Linked DNA regions of Homo sapiens. The protein of the gene in region 1 interacts with the protein of each later gene in a pairwise test. Each region holds a gene or a part of one and is shown in the gene's direction. Other genes may lie near its edges.

Evidence for each region.
Region 2: the proteins of CPNE4 (region 1) and NECAB1 interact in binary tests that used the Homo sapiens proteins (3 or more experiments, as listed by UniProt).

Annotation. Positions count from the first base shown.
Region 1 is NC_000003.12:131,547,401-131,557,770, reverse strand, and holds part of CPNE4 (copine-4), read left to right. Parts: intron 1-2,219; coding exon 2,220-2,274; intron 2,275-5,279; coding exon 5,280-5,331; intron 5,332-7,690; coding exon 7,691-7,824; intron 7,825-10,370.
Region 2 is NC_000008.11:90,912,358-90,922,727, forward strand, and holds part of NECAB1 (N-terminal EF-hand calcium-binding protein 1), read left to right. Parts: intron 1-5,134; coding exon 5,135-5,271; intron 5,272-10,370.

The DNA of each region.
Region 1 (10,370 bases):
AATTGCTGAGGCAAAGTATTTCAGTATGTCCAAGGACCCAGAAGTATATTTTCTCCTATCTATAGCTAATCCTTCATAAGCTGTTGTGAGTCTCTATTTACCCACATTAATACCTTATCTAATACCTGCTAGATGCAATGCACCACAAAGCCTGGATTGACCCAACAGTGAGGAGAAGTGGGAGTTGGTGATTTTCTGGAGAATTTAGACTTCGATTTCAAAGAATTCCAGCTTCCTTGTATCTCCCAGCCCCTAACCCCAAATTTGATACAATTGGCTATGTTTTGGTAAAGTTTTGTCAAAACCATCATTGGCTAGTAATGAGCTCTTAATCAGTCAGGTGGTGATAAAGGAGAATCTAGCTTTGCTACTTTGACTTTTCTGTCAGCCTGGGGATTAGTGGGGCTCATCCCTTTTTCCTTATAGATGTTTAGGACAGTGAGCCCTAACCTGAATTGACTGAATATACCAAGAACAGTGAAATGTAGGAATTGTTCCAAAGAACAAATCTCAGTTAATTTCTTAATGGGAGAAGAAATAAAAGGTAGATGACATGAGAAGGACACGTCCTTGCCAAGAGCCCTATGGCGACAGCCACCCGACAGCACAACTATTCGATTAAAGAGGGTCTTATTTGTTGTCTAGGCAGGGGGCCAGATTACTGGAAGTACTAGCAGAAAATCACATTTAATACTACATATAATCATTAAATTATAATGGTATAACAGAAAGGTATGGGCTTTGGAATCACACAATTCTCCTTGGTAATCACCATAGGCCACTTAGCCTTTCTGAGGCTCTATTTACCTGTAAAATGGAAATAATAAGTAGGTGAAGCTTCCAGGATTGTGTGAGAATTTAATAAATAGATACATCATCTAGCAGGGGGCTGGTACATTGTATGCATCAATAAATGTTAATTATTCTCTTCCCCATCCTGTCAACTATAGTACAGTAAAGTTAGAGTTAAGATCCAATATATGTGAATGCATAATTAAGAGAGAAACTCCAGTGTGCATAAGATAACTCAAACCAAAGGATATGTAAGTGATTCTCTCAGGTTTTCACAAGAATCCTCCCTTCTTTTCATAGCCACATTTTAATAATTAAAATTCATGGATTATGTACTCATTAACTACTGAGCACACATTCCATGACAAGTTCTATAATAAATGGTGGGGCAGGGGGCAGTTGAGGCAGAAGACAGTAGAGATATAAAGATTTTAATACCAAAGACAGGGTCTCTTTGAGTTCAAAAAACAAGAAAAGACATGTAAACAACTTATCACCGCTTGTATGTGATAAGGTGGTGGGCACAATGAGTCATGTAGAGGGAACCAAGCTCTGTCAAATTAGCCAAACTTACAAGCTTTCCACTGCTTGTTTTTTGCTTTTGAGATAGAGTCTTGGTCTATTACCCAGGCTGGAGTGCAATGGTGCATTCTTAGCTCACTGCAGCCTCCACCTCCAGGGTTCAAGCAATTCTCTTATGCCTCAGCCTCCTGAGTAGCTGGGATTACAGGAGTGCACCACCATGCCCAGCTAATTTTTGTATTTTTAGTAGAGATGGGGTTTCTCCATGTTGGCCAGACTGGTCTTGAACTCCTGGCCTCAAGTGATCTACCCACCTCGGCCTCCCAAAGTTCTGGGATTACAGGAGTGAGCCACTGCACCTGGCCCCATTGCTTTTTAATATCCATTTCGATTCAGTCTTATCTGTATTTGAACTCTAGCTCTAATTAGTGGCATGATCTTGGGCAAGTCACTTTACCTCTCAAGGCATTTCCCCACCTGCAGAAGGGGAATAACTATCTCTCCTTGTATTTTAAAAGATGATACATACAAAAGGTTCTAACACAGTCAACCATTACAGTTACCTAGTTCATGGTCACTTTTCAAAGGAAACAAAGTTGAAAGTTGAAGTGGAGGCCATTGATGAAAGGGTAGGGCCATTTTATTTCTTAGTATAGAATCTAGCAAAAAAATTAAGGGAGGAAGTTGTAGACTAATGACTGTAATGAACTTAAGGGGCTGTTTCTTGATTTTAATTATCCATGCTATTGCTACCCCCATCACCACAGACAATCAAGAAGCATGAGTCAGCACTGGCATAGCAACATGGCCTAGCAACCTAGTAATGTAGGTTAATGTTTTTCTTTCTCATTAAATGAATAAATGAAGCAACTTCTTGTTTTTTCTTTTCTTCATTTTGGTTTCAGTGACAAAATGTTCCCTGCCTTTGGGTTTGGCGCCAGGATACCTCCAGAGTACACGGTGAGTGAGTGGAGATGTGATCTTCTTCCACTTCACTGTGGTCAAAGGATAACTTGGCTCTTCTTTGCAGCAGTCTCACACTCCTGACTCTGACCTAACTGTGTCAGTAGGGCCTACAGAGTCAGAAATTGTCTTCAGAATCAGTGAGATTAACTCGCCAGGGCCCGTCTCTTGATGAAACCCTATCTCCTGGTATTTTGGATGGGTCTTCTCAGAGGTCCAGATGAAGAGTTTCATTGTTTAGTTTCTTATAAATGTGGTCAGAGTCTGAGAAAACACTCAAGAAGTTGATCTCCAGGGGCTCAGAACCTATTCACTCGTATATCCCCTAGGAAATAGAATTCTATTGGCAATGCCAACTGGGAAAGTCCGTGACAATGGAGTCTACAGACTTTCTTATCCCAAGTCTCCGAGTCCAAGTCTTGTATGGGAGACACAGAGAAGTTTTGAAGAAAGAACTATTATGACTTAGAGAATTGGGAAGCTGAAATGTTCTTCTGAAGACGTTGGAATCCTATTTGGTTTTGATAATGATTTCTCATGACAGAAAAAAGGCAAAGATTGTGTGTAGATAAATTTGCACTGTAATGAGGCTGAGACACTACTGTGATATTCTAGATGCTCCTGTAGAACATTCTCCACAGAGAACTCGTGCCCACTAGGTGGACAGGGCCTTGGAGAGACAGCAGGGTACCTCTCCCAGCCTCCACCTTACCAGTGCCTCTGAGGTCTGAGCTAAGTACAAACAACACTGCCCAATCCTCAATTTCTCTTTTACTGGCTGTGTCTGAGCCACAGGTGAGGAGGTAGATGCTGACATTTGCTCCCTCACTAGAGCCATCATATAAAGGGCTTTCCCCTTAGGTATCCTTTTTGAAAGAGGAAATCAATATCCCTGTTGCTCCTAGAGTGAATAGTGGATGGAATCGCTTGTCTCCCTGACCTGTTCTCCTTCTTTCTTGCCTTGTATTCCACACTGGCCTTTCTGCTGGGCATAGCTACATAATTCTAGAAGCATTTATTAGAAATACAGCTTGTGGAGAGAAAGAATATAGAACAAGAGTTATCAACTGGTGGCCTATAGACATTATTCAGGCCACAAATATGTTATATTTGACACACTTTTAAAAAACGAATTCAGCAATTGCATATATAAAATGTCAGATTTCTGGTTTCTCTTGAAAACCTGAAAGGCCTGGCAACACTAAGATTAAAAGATGACCGATACAAGAATAAGCTGGAGCTGAGGAGATATAGGCCCCTTCAAATCGGGAATGTAAACAGGTGAATGCCCACTTTCTTCATAGAGCTGCTGAATAGCTCAATAGCCATCAGCCCAACTACCCAGGGATTCTTGAGTTTTCACCACATCCCCACCAGGTGGTCTTCCAGCCTCAGGTTGGCCCAACAGGGCTGAGGACAGAGCTATGCACCATACCTTTTTCTCACTAATGACATCTTTTTGGTTCCCTTCCTGGAGTAACTAATCTTTCTTGCTGTTTTCTGAAGTCCTCTTGTTCACTTGATCCCCTAACTCCATCCTTCCTGTCAGCAAAATCCCCTGGTTATTCTTGTTTCAATAGGCATCTCTCACATTTCCCCATTTCGGGTCCCCTAATTTCTCCCATTCCTCAGACAAGCACTGATGATTTGAGCAGCTCAGGTGCCCCCAGGAGAGTTTACAAGGTTGCCACAATTTACTTCTTAGGACAAAATCTGAAAGTATGCATTGAAACTGAAACACAAGCACCTCTCTTTCTTAGTTAGCACTTTCTCAGAAACAGATCTTGAGACAAGGGTTTGGATGCAAATAGTTTATTTAAAAGGTGAGGGAAACCACAATAGAGGTTGGGAAGTGGAAGTCAGCACAGAGTATATTATCAAGTCAGTTACCGCTGTTGGCAACTGGTGCTTAACTCTGCTGAAGAACCCTAGGAGACAATATACAGCACACATGGACCCCAAGGGATAAGGGAGCTGGGATATGTATACATCACCTCCTGTTAATTACTGATTACTCCCAAGGGTCACTTTTAGCCTGTCACTTGGGCAAGCAAGGCAGGCCCTGGAGGCCAAGAAAAAACTTAAGGTAAACAAAGCAAATAAGATGACTGAAGTCAGCTGGCTTACCTGGAAGTGCTAAGAGCAAGGGACTAGGATAAGCACTGAGAGCATCACCGATCACCTCCCACTAAGAAAACAGGTGTCTTTTAACACAGTGACCTAATTTATGGATACCCAAAAGAGTCAGAGCTTGGAAATATCCTTTGAAATGAAATTCTCCATAAAATACCAAATGATTCAATAAAAATGTCCAGATGCCAGAACATCTATCTTGTTTTATCAGGTTTTCGGAAAGAAAAAAGTAAACAATATGTTATTTGACCTTGTGCATAGGTTCTGCCAGGTAGAGGAATTTGTGTTGAAATATTACAAAGTATATTACTTTACTATGTTTCCAAAAGTAGAGTGCAGTCTGTTTTACCTGTAGGTATGTGAAAATCCTCCTGCCCTGTAGTTCTGCATATCATGTTAATGATTCTTAAGTGTCAACTGCTTAGCTGAAGCTTTTATAACCATCGCTATCTTCAGCAGACAGCTTGGGTTATTGAGTTTTTTTGTTTTTATTTTTGTTTTAATCACTGGGTCCAAATAGAGCTCAGCCAAATCTAAGCCTCCAGTCTGTGGCCAGTTCTAACTAGCAGCTATTCAAAGTTATCTTTCTGAAATCTTTTCTTGGATTTTTTTATAAGCCTTATTCTCCCCTCCTGACAGCATTTATCTGATTCTAGAAAATATTCCTGTCACCTCAACTCCACAGGGAGCTTAGAATTCACCCTCCATCTCATATTGATTGTGTAAAGGCTTGAAATGGTTCCTGCTGCTTAACACATAATGAATATAATGGGCATTTGTTTGCAAACTCTAAACCCCAGTGCCTTCTTACTGGATTAAAGTTGTAATTCTTCTTTCTTCCTGTTTTTTAAATTTTAATCGGTGTCTAGGTCTCTCATGACTTTGCAATCAACTTTAATGAAGACAACCCAGAATGTGCAGGTAAAGCACAACGTGAAAGAAAGCCAGTGTCACAGTCCTTCCCTTTGCAGCTTTCCCATTTTAGTTCATCTCTGCTGGTGTAGCATATTAGTTACGATTGTCCACAGAATCTCTGCTTTCTGTATCAACATAAACCATGCTACTCCACAGGCAAGAGAAAGCCATGATAACAGAGCAGGAAAATAAGAACTGGAAAAGACAGAATGCAGAAGAGGTGGTCTTGAGTGTATGGCAATAATGTTGATCCCAGTCTGGGATTCCTTGGGCCATAATAATAATAATAATAATAAATGAAACTTCACCTGGTAGGCAGTGATACAATATCCCTCTTTCTGTTTTCCAAATTTTCATCAAGTGTTTTTTTTTTTTTTTTTTCACAACTTCATCTCTGTGCCGATATAAGGAGAGGGGGGAACATGGAAATCATTTCCCACTTTCGGCATATCGGCCAAGGACATGGCCTCAGCGAGTTTGAACAAGCAGCATCATGGCTTTGTGCCAGAGAAAGCCTGCTCAAAGGTTCTGGTTCATGTTCCATTGTTTCCAGCCAGAATTCTCTGACATGATTTCACAAAATAATGATATTGAAACTATGATAATAATTATTATAATAAATTTTGTTCTAGAATGATTTTTTCTGTTTTCTAACAGAGCCAAGTACCTATGTTGCTATGAAGATCATAAGACATTTTTGCATTAGAAATGTCCATATCTCTCTCTTCTTGTCAAGGAGGAAGGAGGCTAAATCAGGATTAATTCAGATCCAGTAGAGTGTGTAAGGCATCTAGCAGTTAATGGCCAAGAATATGATATCAATACCATTGAGTCTGAACACAGTAACCTCCAAGACCCAATCTCCATTCTGCCATTTTTTCCACTAATGTATTCTTCATCCTCAGTTTATTATGGATTAGACTTTCCTCATCCCCAACCACCCCCATTCTGCAACTGTAAGAGTGGTTTCCCCCACAGCAGAATGAAATATAAACCCTGGTATTCACCTGTTTTATACTCTTAGAATTCATCTGCCTGATACTTTTCAAGAGGAAATCAAACTTGCTTATCTTAGGCAAAAGCTCAAGAACCAAAAAAACATAAGGAGCTTCTATTCAGCATCACTTAACTTCAGAACCAGACTGCAAAATGACTTGGCATCTGTCTTTAGAATGATAGGCTTTGGGGCAGGGCCAAGTGGGTGCAGGATTGCCAATGAGGTTGGGAGCATGTATGTAAGGGCAGAACAGAACAGAACTTGCTCATCTAAAATACCCAAGAGCTATTTTGCAGTGCATGGTGGTTATGGAGAATAATCTCAGGAGGGAATTGTGTGGATCCCTCTGGCCAAAAACAGGACTAATGTGCTATTTCAGAATAGAAAGGGATAGAAGGATAAGCTGAATAGGGGAAGGCAAGCAATAACACAGGCACAGACAACAAGAGAAGCCATTTGAATAAAAATCATTTGTAATGAGATTATTGCTGTGGGATCAGAATGATAACATGAAATGTACAGTCAAGATGTATCAAGTACTAGGAGAAGCTGTATAGATAGGACTGCCTCTCCTGGCAGAGTCCCATCCTTTTCTATTTCCTGGGCTCATATGGCCTCAGGATGGAAGCCCCCTTTTAAATGAGGGGTTGTCCGTGATGATAACCATCACTTATCTGTACTCAGTGCCCAGGAGATGAGTATATCAGCCACTTTGCTCATTCATCACACACTTGGTGAGCATTACATTTGCTCGATACTGCCTCAAGCTCTTTGGGGAAATACAAAAAATAAGTAAGTCATGATTCCTGCCCGCAGAGTATAACATCTGGAGAGATGGTCATGGGAACTCCTGACTCTTATAGAGGGCACGGGTAGTATCTACTAGAGTCAACAAGATCGTGTGGAAACAAGTGCAACATTGAAGCTAGCTTGCTAGTGGCTAAGAACACAGTGCTTAGAGCCAGGCAGACCCAAGTTTAAATCCTGAGTCTTGAACACACTTGCTATGTGACCCAGGGCAGATCATTGAACATCTCTAAGCCTCTGTTTCTTCACCTATAAAATGGGTATAACATCTATTTCATTATGCTATGAGGAGCGAATGAAATCTTATATATAAAGTAGGATATTAGGGAAAATTTTGTGGAAATCGTTGCTTTTGACTTTAGCTTTTAAAGAGGAGAATGATTTCAGTGGGGAAGGAGACAGCAACACTAGCAATGTGGTATTCCTTTTTATCTTAAGAACATAAACATGATGTTGATAAGGACTATTTGGGATATTTAATGCTTTACTTTTGTGTGTGTTTGGCTATAAATATATTTGGAGTGACTCTGGAGCTGTTGATCTTTGCCAATTTCACCTCAGGAATTCAAGGAGTTGTGGAAGCCTATCAGAGCTGTCTTCCTAAGCTCCAACTCTACGGTCCCACCAACATTGCCCCCATCATCCAGAAGGTTGCCAAGTCAGCGTCAGAGGAAACTAACACCAAGGAGGCATCGGTAAGGAGGGGGCTATTTGCCTCCTAAGGGGAGCTTACTCTTCCTCACCTGGATATTGGCCGTAAGACCCATCTCACTCTAACAATAAATTCCAACACTTCTCCCTGTGTGAATTTGGACAAATGACTTAACCTCCTCCTATCCTCAGTCTTGACATCTGAAACATGGGGATAATCAAACCCATCTTTGCTGGGTTGTGAGGCTAAGAGATGACACATGTCAAATGTCTACCACATTGTCTGAACACAGGAGAAACTCAACAATGGAAGCTACTATATTCACTAAAGTATGTCATATCCACCTCCTGTCCTTGAAAAGAAAAAAGAAAGGTTTAAAAATAAGCTTGCTTTTTAAGGTACCCATACTACAGATGGAAGCAAAGCACCATGGAAGTAAAACAATGGATGATTCTGCCTCCTGGTGGTAAAGCGCAGCAGCACAAAACATCACAGCAAAAATTGGTTTCATATTCTATTGCTTTTCTTAAGAAAAATGCAAACCAAGACCAGAGTTTGAGTTTTGCCCCTAATATTTTAGAAGTAAATATATTACCACAATAACTTCTGTATTTATTTTAATAACATTAATACATGTCTTTTTAGCTTTATGATTTTTTCCAGATTTAGTGGAATATTACCAATGTCTGAAGTTTGCTCTGTAATTTTATCCTGGGTACTGAGTTTTTATTTAAAAAAATACTACTCCCTTATCTTCTTACATCAATTCATCTAACCTTCTTGCACTGTCTTCATGTTCTCAGCCTTCCTTCATGTTAGAATGGATGGAGGACCATGCTCCTACCTCATGTCAACATCTTCTTTTGTGTACTTGAGCACATCTCTGAATTATCCAGGAACTTTGACTCTGCAGTTATATTCTCGCTCTTTCTCCTATCATCTATTGTTTTCTTTTCTACTTCCCTTTGTACTGAAGACTCATTCCCATTAACAAGTACTCATTCAATAATATCTCCTGCTTTAAGTTAATATCTCCCCCTTGACTCTGCTTTGCCCTTTAGCTACTGTCCTTAACTTTTTCCCACTTATAATCTGCACTCCATGCAGAAACCAGATTGATCTTTTAAAAATATAATTAGTATTGCAGCATTCCTTTGTTCTAAATTCTCTAATACTTCTCATCATACTTGGAGTAAAATCTAAATTCCCTGATATGGCTTAGAAGACATTATAGGATCTAATCTCTGCCTACCTCTCTGATCTTAATTCTTATCATTTTCTCTTTCGCTCCCTATATTTCAGCCACACTGACCTTCTTGCTGTTCCACAAACACACCAAATATATTCCCACCTTGAGGCCTTTTCACTTACTGTTCCCCTGCCAGGGTTTCTCTCACCCAAACCTCCATATGATCCATTCTCTGACTGTGTTAACATCTCTTCTCAACTCTCAACCCCTCTGAAAGTTCCCCCTGGCTACCTTATCTAAAATAGCCAACCCACCCACCCGCACCATGTCTCAGCTTTACTTTTCTTCTTAGTACCCATCATCATCTGAAATATTTTAGGTGCATCTACTAACCTGTATATTTTATGTCTCTCTACTTTCATATGGAAGCTCTACAATAAGACTTGTTCACTAGTATATCCCTAGTACACAAAACAATGCCTGCACACAGTACATGCTTAATAAATACTACTTAAAGAACGCATATAAAGCCACTCTACTTTTCATATATATATATAATGAAAAGTACTTTACATTTTCTTTTGTAAAACTGGTGTGTATCTTAAATATTGCACATCTTGTACGCCAGAAAATACAGTGTTCCTGTTTTCATTATAATTTGAAGTCTCTCCTACTTAAAAAGATCCAAATTCCCAAGGTCCCTAGAGAGAACAACAGTCACTGCATGTCTTTGGTTCAGTCCACTGGCCCTTCCATACATCTCATTATCATCTTCAGCTACTCCGGGCTTGGGTCATTGAGTGACATGAGCAATTCCTACAAGGGAATAGGAAGTTTGAAGCAAAATTTTGTTTTAGACTCATAATTTTTCCATGTCCTTTTATTAACATAGTTGACCACAGTTTCAATCTGCTACACAACATCCATCAGGTGACCCATAGCTATCCATAAGAAACAAATGGGTCTGATCTGTGGGGCATGTTCTCTCATCTCCTCTGTTCATTACATCATGTTCTTGAAATCACTAACCGGTGGTTTGACTGTGAAAAGGACTGGAGACCCTGGGGAGCTAAGTGTGTGTTACTTCAAATAATTACTTTAGAATAGTGAATATATAAAACTGTGGATATATTAGCCTTTATGCTGGGCAGAGACACTCTGTAAGCTGAGATCTTGTCCAGCAGTAATGCTGAGGATTTAATCCAAGCCAAGTCTTTTCCAGGTGTGAAAGCTAAGAAAATCATGACTCCTCTCTGCTCATTTTTCCTCTTCTTTTCAGAAGCCATGAACACTATTAGGTTTTTTTTTTTTTTTTTTTTTTTTTTTTTTTTTTTTTTTTTTTTTTGCGACAGGGTCTTGGTCTATCACCCAAGCTGAAGTGTAGTGGCACAATCATGGCT
Region 2 (10,370 bases), on another chromosome or scaffold:
TGAGCCCTTTAAAGTGGAGTTTGTCAACGTAAAGGTCTTAATATAATTCATCTCTAAAGTATCAACTTATTTCAAACTACAGAATATCTGGTTAAGATAGGGCTCAGAATTTATTTCAATTTATTAATTGTTTAATAATATTTAATCCAAAATTATAATTTTGTCTCCTCGTTCACTAATCTGAGAATCTATCATTTCCTTAATCCTTGGGAATCTGTAGTCTGAAATTATTTTGATATCTTGTTTTGCCATCTAAGGTTTGCAAAGACTAGCTGGAATTAACCTCTGTCCATTATTAGGACAAGTAAGAGCCAGTTCTTTATTTTTGTATTTTTATAAGGCTTAAATTTGATATAGTGGTCTCCCAGTTTGGAAAAAAAAAATGTGCCATTTAAAATAAAAGCCTGAGAATATTTAAAAGAAGTGGGACATAGATAATGTGTGTAGCCCACTTAGTATTTTAAAAAGTAATAATTGTGGATAGAGTAGAAAAGAGCAAAAGACAACCTTATCTTTGTAAAGTTATTTTTTTTTCTGTTATAGAAGCTGCTGCAGATGTCTTACACAAGAATGGCGAGAGCTGCAGGGAGTTAATCCAAAAGACAGTCAGAAGCAGTGCCCCTTGCTAAATGTGATTGTTATCTGACCTCATAAACAAGAATACACTAACCCTAGATGTCACTGACTTGATTGATTTTCAAACAGGGAAGACTGATGCTCTAATTTTCCTAATTAACTCAGATGATTCTATCAACCTGATGGGCAGAGCTTGCTTACTGAGAAATGATGTGAAAATTAAGATGCACAGACAGTTTTCTAAGAAACCTGATTCAAAGCACTATGCTTCCAATGCTAGGATTTTTACTCAAATGAATTCTAGCCCTGTTCCAGCTCCACCAAAGGAAATGTGTAGATTGAAATGTTTACATTTTGGCTTTCCGCAGACAAAAATGGAGGTATTAATACTACTTTGTTGACAATTTCCACTTAATGATTTGTGTAACTAATAATTATCATGACACGAATGAACATTATTAGGATCTGAGAAGTATAACGTTAACTTTTACTTTCCCATATTCTTTCTGATAGACATGGAGGATTAAACTGCGTTTGAAAAAAAAAAGAAGCAAAATCTGAATAATGAGTATAATCTGTACATTTTTAAACTACTTTATTTTGTCTGTAGGAGTTCTTTCTGCCAGTCTCTCAAATACAGGTTTTGCTCAAAGGAATGCATGCCTTATGCCAACATACCAGTCTTTTGGGGAATTAGGAATGCAAAAAATCTCTTTTTGTACCTTCGCTACCAACACATTTGCTGAGAATTAAAAGGGCCAGGATTTGACATTTTCCAGCTTGTTATCTATTTAATTTTCCATCTGCTTCTTTTGCCACTGCCTTCCAAAGGAACATCTGCTGCATATCTGAGAAAAGGGAAGGAAGATTGGATCTGTGCCACCCGGGTCTGCAGTCTCAAACCTTGAGATCCAGAATAAGGGAAGGGAAGGAGACTAACAAATGGTCCAGAAAATAAAATGAGGACAAACAGTCTGTTAGAACAAAGCTGTATTTTTCTTTATTGCAGAGCCCACATGACTGGGCAAGTCGGGTGGTAATGTCTACAACCAGCAAGGGCTGGATGCAGGGGGAGGCAGGTGGTGACCAGCCAGTGGCAAGAGTACTTCCCAGAGCTTGGACACTCCCTCTGGTGCCTGACTCTCCATGTGGGACCCGGTTTCTCACACATTTCTTAAGCATTTATGGGGCAGCTGCTATGAGGCAATTTTGTTCTGAGTACTCTGGAGGCAGAGATGAATAAGACATAATCCCTGTGCTTAAAGAGCTAGCCTAAAATGGGGAAGATAGACAAATGAACAACAGATCACAACATCACAATGAAAAATTCTACATCCTATGAAAAATTCTATATCCTAGGTAGGGAAGAAATGTCACAAAAATACATAGAAGTGGAAAGATGTATTCCTAATCCTATGAAGAGAAGTGGTGGTTCAAGGAAAGGAACATCTGTACAGAGACAGTGTTACAAGCTGAGTCTGGAAGGATAAGTAGGAATATTAGAAAACAAGGTTTTTTTCCTCCTTATCAATGAGGGGTAGTATAAAACAGCAAACCTTCATAATTGACTCAAAAAATTTAATCCTCCAAACCTTAAACCCACCCACCACCCCTCTCAATTTCAAGGCATCAACATTTATATCAAAGAAATGTATCAACCAACTGGGTTCTGCCACTTTTCAATGTTACCTACAGAGTCACTAGTAAGGTTATCAAACTCTCATCAGAGTGAGATAAGAGGGTTAGCCTAATCATAACTTTCTGATTTGCTATGGTGGAGCAATGATGAGTGGCCAGTTGTCTGACTTTAACTTTTCTTAATTATCTAACTTTAACATCATCAAAATATTTGTATGTAAGATCACAATAGCAAATGCAATAAATTCTTAGAGTTAGGAGTGTATCTGCAAACTATCAGGTATGAATGAACCTCTACTCCACCATAAGGGATACAGAAATAAAAGACATGACCTTTCTGTCAAAGAAGCTGAAACCTAATTGCAATGACTGGAATGTTTAAAATGACTAACTATAATTTTTTAATCTCTTTTCTATAATTCTGACATGGCAAATATTTAACATTTAAATGAGAAAAGAGTAAGGACAATGCTATGCTTTATTGCTCAGTAAATGTTTGCTTTCTTCATTTTTCAATGCAGTCTACAAATAAGTATAAAACTTTTTATCATTTGCTTTATATTAGTCATAGTATATACTGAGATGCGAAAATAGTTGGTATAATCCCTGACTTTGCAATTATATTTTATCTTCATTTTAATAAATTTTATTTTTTAAAATATCCATTGGTGATATGGAAATAACTGTGGGAAAAGACTCAAACACACCTTTTTTTCTATCATCACATTTTCTTTCAACCTCAAAGAAAAGCCTTCCTCAATTTTAAAAACTCATTCAGAGAGAATTTTTTGAAGTTTTTTTTTAACCAATAAATAGCAAGCTATGAGATCAAATTAAATATTTGGAATATTTTTAGCTTGATTTAACTCACCCAAAACTCTTAAGATTATTATAAGCATGTAATGGTTATGTTTAGTTTACGGTTAGTTTCTTAAATGGAGTTTAAAGACATTGCAATTTTTAATTTTTAAATAGGACTATTATATATGGTAGATGTATTGGTCAGGGTTCTCTAGAGGGACAGAAATAATAGGATAGATGTTTATATGAAGGGAGTTTATTAAGGATAATTGATTCACACCACATGATCACACAGTAAAGTCCCACATAGGCCCTCTGCAAGTTGAGGAGCAAGGAAGCCAGTGGTGGATCAGTCTGAGTCCCAAAACCTCAGAAGTAGGGAAGCCAACAGTCCAGCCTTCAGTCTGTGGCCAAAGGCCTGACAGCCCCTGGCAAACTACTGGTGTAAGTCCAAGAGTCCAAAAGCCAAAGAACTTGGAGTCTGATATTTGAGGGCAGAAAGCATCCAGCACAGAAGAAAGATGAAGGCCAGAAGACTCAGCAAGTCTGCTCTTCCATCTTCTCCTGCCTGCTTTATTCTAGCCATTCTGGCAGCTGTAGTAGTTGGTACCCACCCAGATTGAGGGTGGGTCTGCCCCTCCTAGTCCACTGACTCAAATGTTAATCTCCTTTGGCAACACCCTCACAGACACACCCAAGGACGATACTTTGCATCCTTCAATCCAATCAAGTTTACACTCAATATTAACCATCTCAGTAGATAAGAAAATTTCCTGTGTTGTTCACCTGTAATGAATGAGCTTAAAAAGAGGCTGATGATTGAAACTTTTTACTATTTCAAATTGAGAAAGAAATGAGATTTTCTATGCTATTACATTATTCTTCTATTAGAAAAACTTCCAAAGTAAACTATATCAGGAGGCCATAGTCCAATTCTTCCTAAATTAAAGTTGATAGAAGCACAGAATATTTTTGAGTTGGAATGTATGCCAGAGTTACTTAGTGATTTATAAGTGGGAAAACTGAGAACCAGGAAGGTTAGATACCTAAATCTTACTTGTTTGGGTTTATAACTATGCCCTAAGCTTCTTCAGCATATCAGGATCCGTGGTATTGTGTTATCACCCTCAGTCGTTTTGTGTTTTGTCTTTTCAGCCATAAAAAAATTTTGTTTAGGGACAGAGACAAATAAATCTTTTCCTTGGCTGAACTTGAATGTACCATTTCCACTCAAGATTCTAGAAAATCAGATTTCACTGGCTGGTCCCATGATCTGAAAGAGTGGCCCTGTCACCATCTTATTCCACACCAACCTGGTTTTTGTTGTTGGTTCTCCCTGAGACTTTAGGGAGACAAGCACAGCAGGTGGTACCATCCACAGCTCACCCATCTACCTTGAGTAAGCTTGGCAAGTACACTTATTCAGTCTGCAGTGACCTCTGCAGTGACCCTGGGGCTGTTTCAGTGAATGCTGCTTTTGTGGCTCAGGTGTTGTCCTAGAAGTTAATTGTCAATGAGCCTCAGGTAAAGTTACTGAAGGAAAGACATAAGCAGATTTAGTAAACCATTTAAATACTCCAATCCTAACATTTTCTGAATTTTAAATAACTACACATAATTTTCTTTGTCTTCAGCATAATACGGATCAAGCATAATAAATACATCAAGAGTGAATTAAGCCAATTGCTGAAACATGGTTGCATTTTGTTGGTAATAGTGAAAATATATGATGGCGTGGTCAACATTCAAATGAGACATAGAACAAACCCTGAGTTAGTCACATTCTGATCTTCCCCCTCCGCCACCGGATATTTATTTTTTCTTTTCTACAGATGTCTATTTTGCAACTCTGCTGGTTTTGTCCTTTTTCTTAATCTTGAGGCAGGTATATTGGGAGGCAAGATATTCCAGTCATTTCTGCAGCTTTTTTATTCATCTCCTGGTGGGTGGATGAGAGTGATGCTGTAGCCTCCAGGGCTCGACAGATCTTTTCCCTTCTCTCCACCCTCTCTCTCTAGGATCAATCTGGGATTGATGGGTACATGGTAAAAGAAAAAAAAAAAATCCTGGGTATTTTTTTCTACCATACTTCTAATTGCATTTGTTTTGTCACCCTTAGGACTACCAAGAAGCCTCCAATTTGGAACAATTCGTAACTAGATTTTTATTGAAGGAAACCCTGAATCAGCTGCAGTCTCTCCAGAATTCCCTGGAATGTGCCATGGAAACTACTGAGGAGCAAACCCGTCAAGAAAGGCAATTTACATGTTTTCATCTGATGTCTATTTAGTGACTCTATGTTCATGAAAAAACAATTGAGAGGCATTGTACTTACACTAGCAAAAACTAAAAAAGAGAATTGATATATTTAAAAAGAATGACAGTGACCTCCACTGGTTGCTTGCCTTATTATTTGCCTCTAAAAAGACCATTCTACTTTTTCTTTTACTGTCAGTCATTTAGTAAACTATATATATATATATATATATATATATATATGTGTGTGTGTGCGTGTATATATATGTCTGTGTGTATATATATACACACACACACATATATGTGTATGTGTGTATATATATACACACACACATATGTGTGTGTGTGTATATATATACATATATGTGTGTGTGTATATATATATATTTCTTTTTTTTTGAGATGGAGTCTCACTTTGTCACCCAGGCTTGAGTGCAGTGGCACGATCTTGGCTCACTGCAAACTCTGCCTCCCGGGTTCAAGCAATTCTTGTGCCTCAGCCTCCCAAATAGGTGGGATTACAGGCACACACCACCACGTCCAGCTAATTTATTGTATTTTTTAGAAGAGACGGGGTTTCACTATGTTGATCAGGCTGGTCTTGAACTCCTAACCTCAGATGATCCACCCATCTTGGCCTCCCAAAGTGCTGGGATTACAGGTGTAAGCCACTGAGCCCAGCTGAGTCAACAAATTTTAATTGAAAATTTAGTAGATGGAGAAGACTTTAAAGTATTATGAATAATATAAAGATACATTTAACATAATGTCAATCCTTAAGGAAGCCTAAGTCTATCATATAAATAAGACATGAACACAAAAACTATACTGCAAAGAACAAAGTGATAATAAATACCGTAGAGAAGAGGAAATACATTGCCAATTGTTTTCAGAATATTAAAAGATTAAATATGGATAGAGGGATGGAAGGATGAGAAAGTCAATTTCATGGAGTTTCTCTATTTGAGCTTGTCTTGCAAAATCAAGAGATCAGTGAAAAAGCCTGGTGGGAAGACAAGACTTGAACTGGACCTGTAGGATGAATTTGAATGGCAGAATGAGAGTCTCTCTAGAGGGATCCGTCTCACCCACCTCCTGTTACCCACCTCTCATGTGGCTCACTTCTCTTTGGTTGTCTGGTCACTGATTGGACAGTAATTTCTCTGGGAAGCCTTCACTGCTCATTCATACCTCCCACTTCACTACCGTGTATTCCTATAGTGCCCCCTATTTATATCTACTTATCTCAACCCCTTCCTTGTTAATTTGGTGTAATTTTGAAAATGTGGAAATGATGGGAAAGACCCTTACAGACTACATGAACCTGGATATACTTGGGAGACCTGATAATTCAGTAAGCCTAATTATTTCAGGAAATGGAGAAAAGTGAATGATGGAAATTATTTCAAAATTCAATGCCACCAATAGGTATCACTGAGAAAATAAGTAGTCATATTGCAATAGCTATATAAATAAAGGCACTAATGCTTAAGAGACACCTATACTAAAAATGTGTAGGGCACACATCAAGGTGATCCCAGCCAACAGTTGATATTTTTCTGAGTTGTCATTGCTTATACTTTGCAAGCTAGAGAAGCTTGCAAAACTCTTGCTCCTGGGGCATATTTTGGCAGATGTGTTACTTTAAACTTATAGATGTGCTTTATCTAACTTTTACATCTTAAATTAGAGAGAAGGAAACAGTAAGTTTTCTGAACAGGCTGATAATAGACTACCCTGCAGGACCAATTTTCCTGAACAAATTAACTGATACATAATTATTAGGACATCTCCAAAATAGTGGAATTTTCAACCATGTGTTTACAATGTCAAAATGAGTGAGCACCACCAACTTCTAACAAAAAATCCTGTAATTCCAGAATCTAATGAGCCCATGCAGCTGACTGTCACAGGGAAGTACTCTTTAGCAGATCTGTGAAGCATCCTCTACATCATAAACTTCCTGTTTTCACTGCGTTGGGTGATTCTATACCAAATGGCAAAGTATAACAATTCACTTTAGAAAAGCAAAACCCACCTCCTCAGCTTTGAGCAGAGGATAACTGAATGTCTTGAAGCACAGTGAAATGGATTTCATGTTCCTAATGAGAAAAATGAGGCCTCCTGTGTTGTTTCTTTTGTTTGGACTTTCTGGAAATAAAATGGGAACTCCCTTTTTAGAATCAGTCATCTGCCACCTGAGAAGAGGCTTGAAAAAGTGCTCTACTCCCCTTCTTCACCTGCGCTTTTGTTTTTTTCTACAGTCATCCCCTGAAAACCTGTGCTCTGCATTTACCACCATGCTGTGAATGTTTAATGAACAACTGTTTTCTGTGTTAGGCCACAGGCTAGCCTTGAACTCTTGTGACTGCTGCCAGCAGCTGCCTAGCAGCTGTGCTTAATGAGAAGGAGCATGACAATATAGACTTTAAGGAAAGTAGAAGGCACTAGAGGATTAACGAACCTTTTACTTCTGGATTTCTCACTCAAAAACAGCTTCAAATAATGGGAAATGTTACATGTCTGACTGCAGTTTAAGGGGTGCTGTTGTATGGCATTTGACTAAGACACCCAGGAATGACAAAATCCCACCCCAAATCTGTGATATTCCCCCTGAGAGGTTTATAAAGAAATGCATAAACAAGCAAACAGAAAATAAGGTACCACTATGGATTTATGCCCGTAATATCTGATGAACCAGACTGAAGCACGTGAATTATGCCCAAACCTAAAGGGACTGTGTCTCCTCTCCCAAGGCTATATCTTCCTATCAGCTGGCCACCAAAAGTGAGGAGAGCCCTGGGACCTTCATCAGTGAGGAAAAGATAGAGAGAGAAAAACTATACCTTTCCTATGATGTCAATCAAGAGACCAGTGAAAACGCCTGATGGGAAGACAAGACTTGAAGTGGAACTTTAGGATGAATTTTAATGGCAGAATGAGATTCTCTCTAGAGGGATCCGTCTCACCCATCTCATGTTACCCATCTCTCATCTGGCTCACTTCTCCTCGTCTGTCTTGTCACTGATTGGACAGTACTTTCTCTGGGAAGCCTTCACTGCTCATTTATACTTCCCACCTCATTACCATGTATTCCCATAGTGCCCTCTATTTATATCTACTTATCTCAGCCCCTTCCTTGTTTATCTCCCCCATTAGACATTGAGTTTTTAGATGGCAGAGACTTTGCATAAGTCCCCTCTACTTACTACAACTGCATGGTAAACATATGAAAGTGAATGAATGAAAGGAATTCTAGGTGAAAGGAGTGCTACACAGGAGCAGTTGGTGAGGACCCAGAACACTGAGGAGACCAATCTAACAGTCATCTGGGGTTCAGAAAGATCTTAAAAGCTAGAAAGATGCAAACAAAAATTCACCAGTTTTTTGTTTGTTTGTTTGTTTTGAGACAAAGTCTCACTCTGTAGCCCAGGATGGAGTGCAGTGATGCAATCTCAGCTCACTGCAACTTCCGCTTCCCGGGTTCAAGCAATTCTCCTGTCTTAGCCTCCCGAGTAACTGGGACTACAGTCATCTGCCACCATGCCCAGCTAATTTTTGTATTTTTAGTAGAGACAGGGTTTCACCATATTAGCCAGGCTGGACGCGAACTCCTGACCTCAGGTGATCTACCCACCTCAGCCTCCAACGTGTGGGATTACAGGCTTGAACCACCACTCCCAGCCAATTCATCAGTTTTTTTATGTTGTAAAGGAAGATTTTGTGATGCCCTTCACAGTCAAGAGTTGCAACCTGCAGGTCAGGCATGGTGGCTCACACCTGTGATTCCTGCACTTTGGGAGGCCAAGGCAGGTGGATCACCTGAGGTCAGGAGTTCGAGACCAGCCTGGCCAACATGATGAAATCCTGTCTCTACTCAAAATACAAAGAAATTAGCCCGGCATGGTGGTGGCAGATACCTGCAATCCCAGCTACTCTGGAGGCTGAAGCAGAAGAATCACTTGAACCCAGGAGGCGGAGGTTGCAGTAAGCAGAGATCGCGCCACTACACTCCATCCTGGGCAACAAAAGCGAAACTCCATCTCAAAAAAAAAACAAAAAAACAAGAGTTACAACCTGCAGGTATCATTAAAATCTCTAGGATTGTGATAATTTGCTTTCCCTTCAGCATCAACATTACTTTGGGATTTAATATTTGTGAAACCTAGGGATACAAAGACTCCTTGGAATATAGCAAATTTAGGGAAGTCATCTATTCCATCTATCAGCCCCGGGGAGAATCACACAGTATCATTCATCCTGCAGTAATGAGGTAGACATGCCATGTTGGGCAAAATGTCTGTGTCTATTCATGTAAAAATGGATATTTGAGAGAGAAAGGATGTGTACAGCTGGAATGCCACAGAGGTGGAATTTTCAGATGGCATGCTACAACACTCTTTGTATCTGCCCTGGCAAACTGACTAAATGTGAATTACATTAATTCCATGTGTTCAGAAAGTACGTAATAGCTAATGACAAGAATAATAAGTATGTTATATGGAAGTTTCCCCCTAGGGGTCCCCTATTCTCTTACATAAAACTCTCTTCCTCACAAACTAAATTTCTAGGAACACAGTTTTCATTATATGTGGATTTCCTTTTTATAATGGAATCCACAAGTTTGCTCTATTTCCCAAAGTTTTTCTATATCCAGGAACGTAATTAATTCCTTCTTGACTTGAAAGTTATTTTTCTCCTTTTGATAGTTGTCTATTATAGAAGTGAGGAAAAGCTTTAATTTCACAAACAGGTGGTTATAAAAGTTTAGACAGCTTAGATTTCCTTAGCTTGAACATAGAGGAGGATTGCTCTAATCACCTACTCCCCTGACCACCAAAGCTGCCAAAAACTTGGATTTTTTTTTTTTTTTTTTTTTTTTGAGATGGAGTCTCACTCTGTAGCCCACGATGGAGTGCAGGGGCACAATCTCTGCTCACTGCAACCTCCGCCTCCCGGGTTCAAGCAATTCTCCTGCGTCAGACTCCCAAGTAGCTGGGATTACAGGCGCCTGCCACCATGCCCAGCTAATTTTTGTGTTTTTAGTAGAGACGGGGTTTCACCATGTTGGCCAAGCTGGTTTTGAACTCCTGACCTCA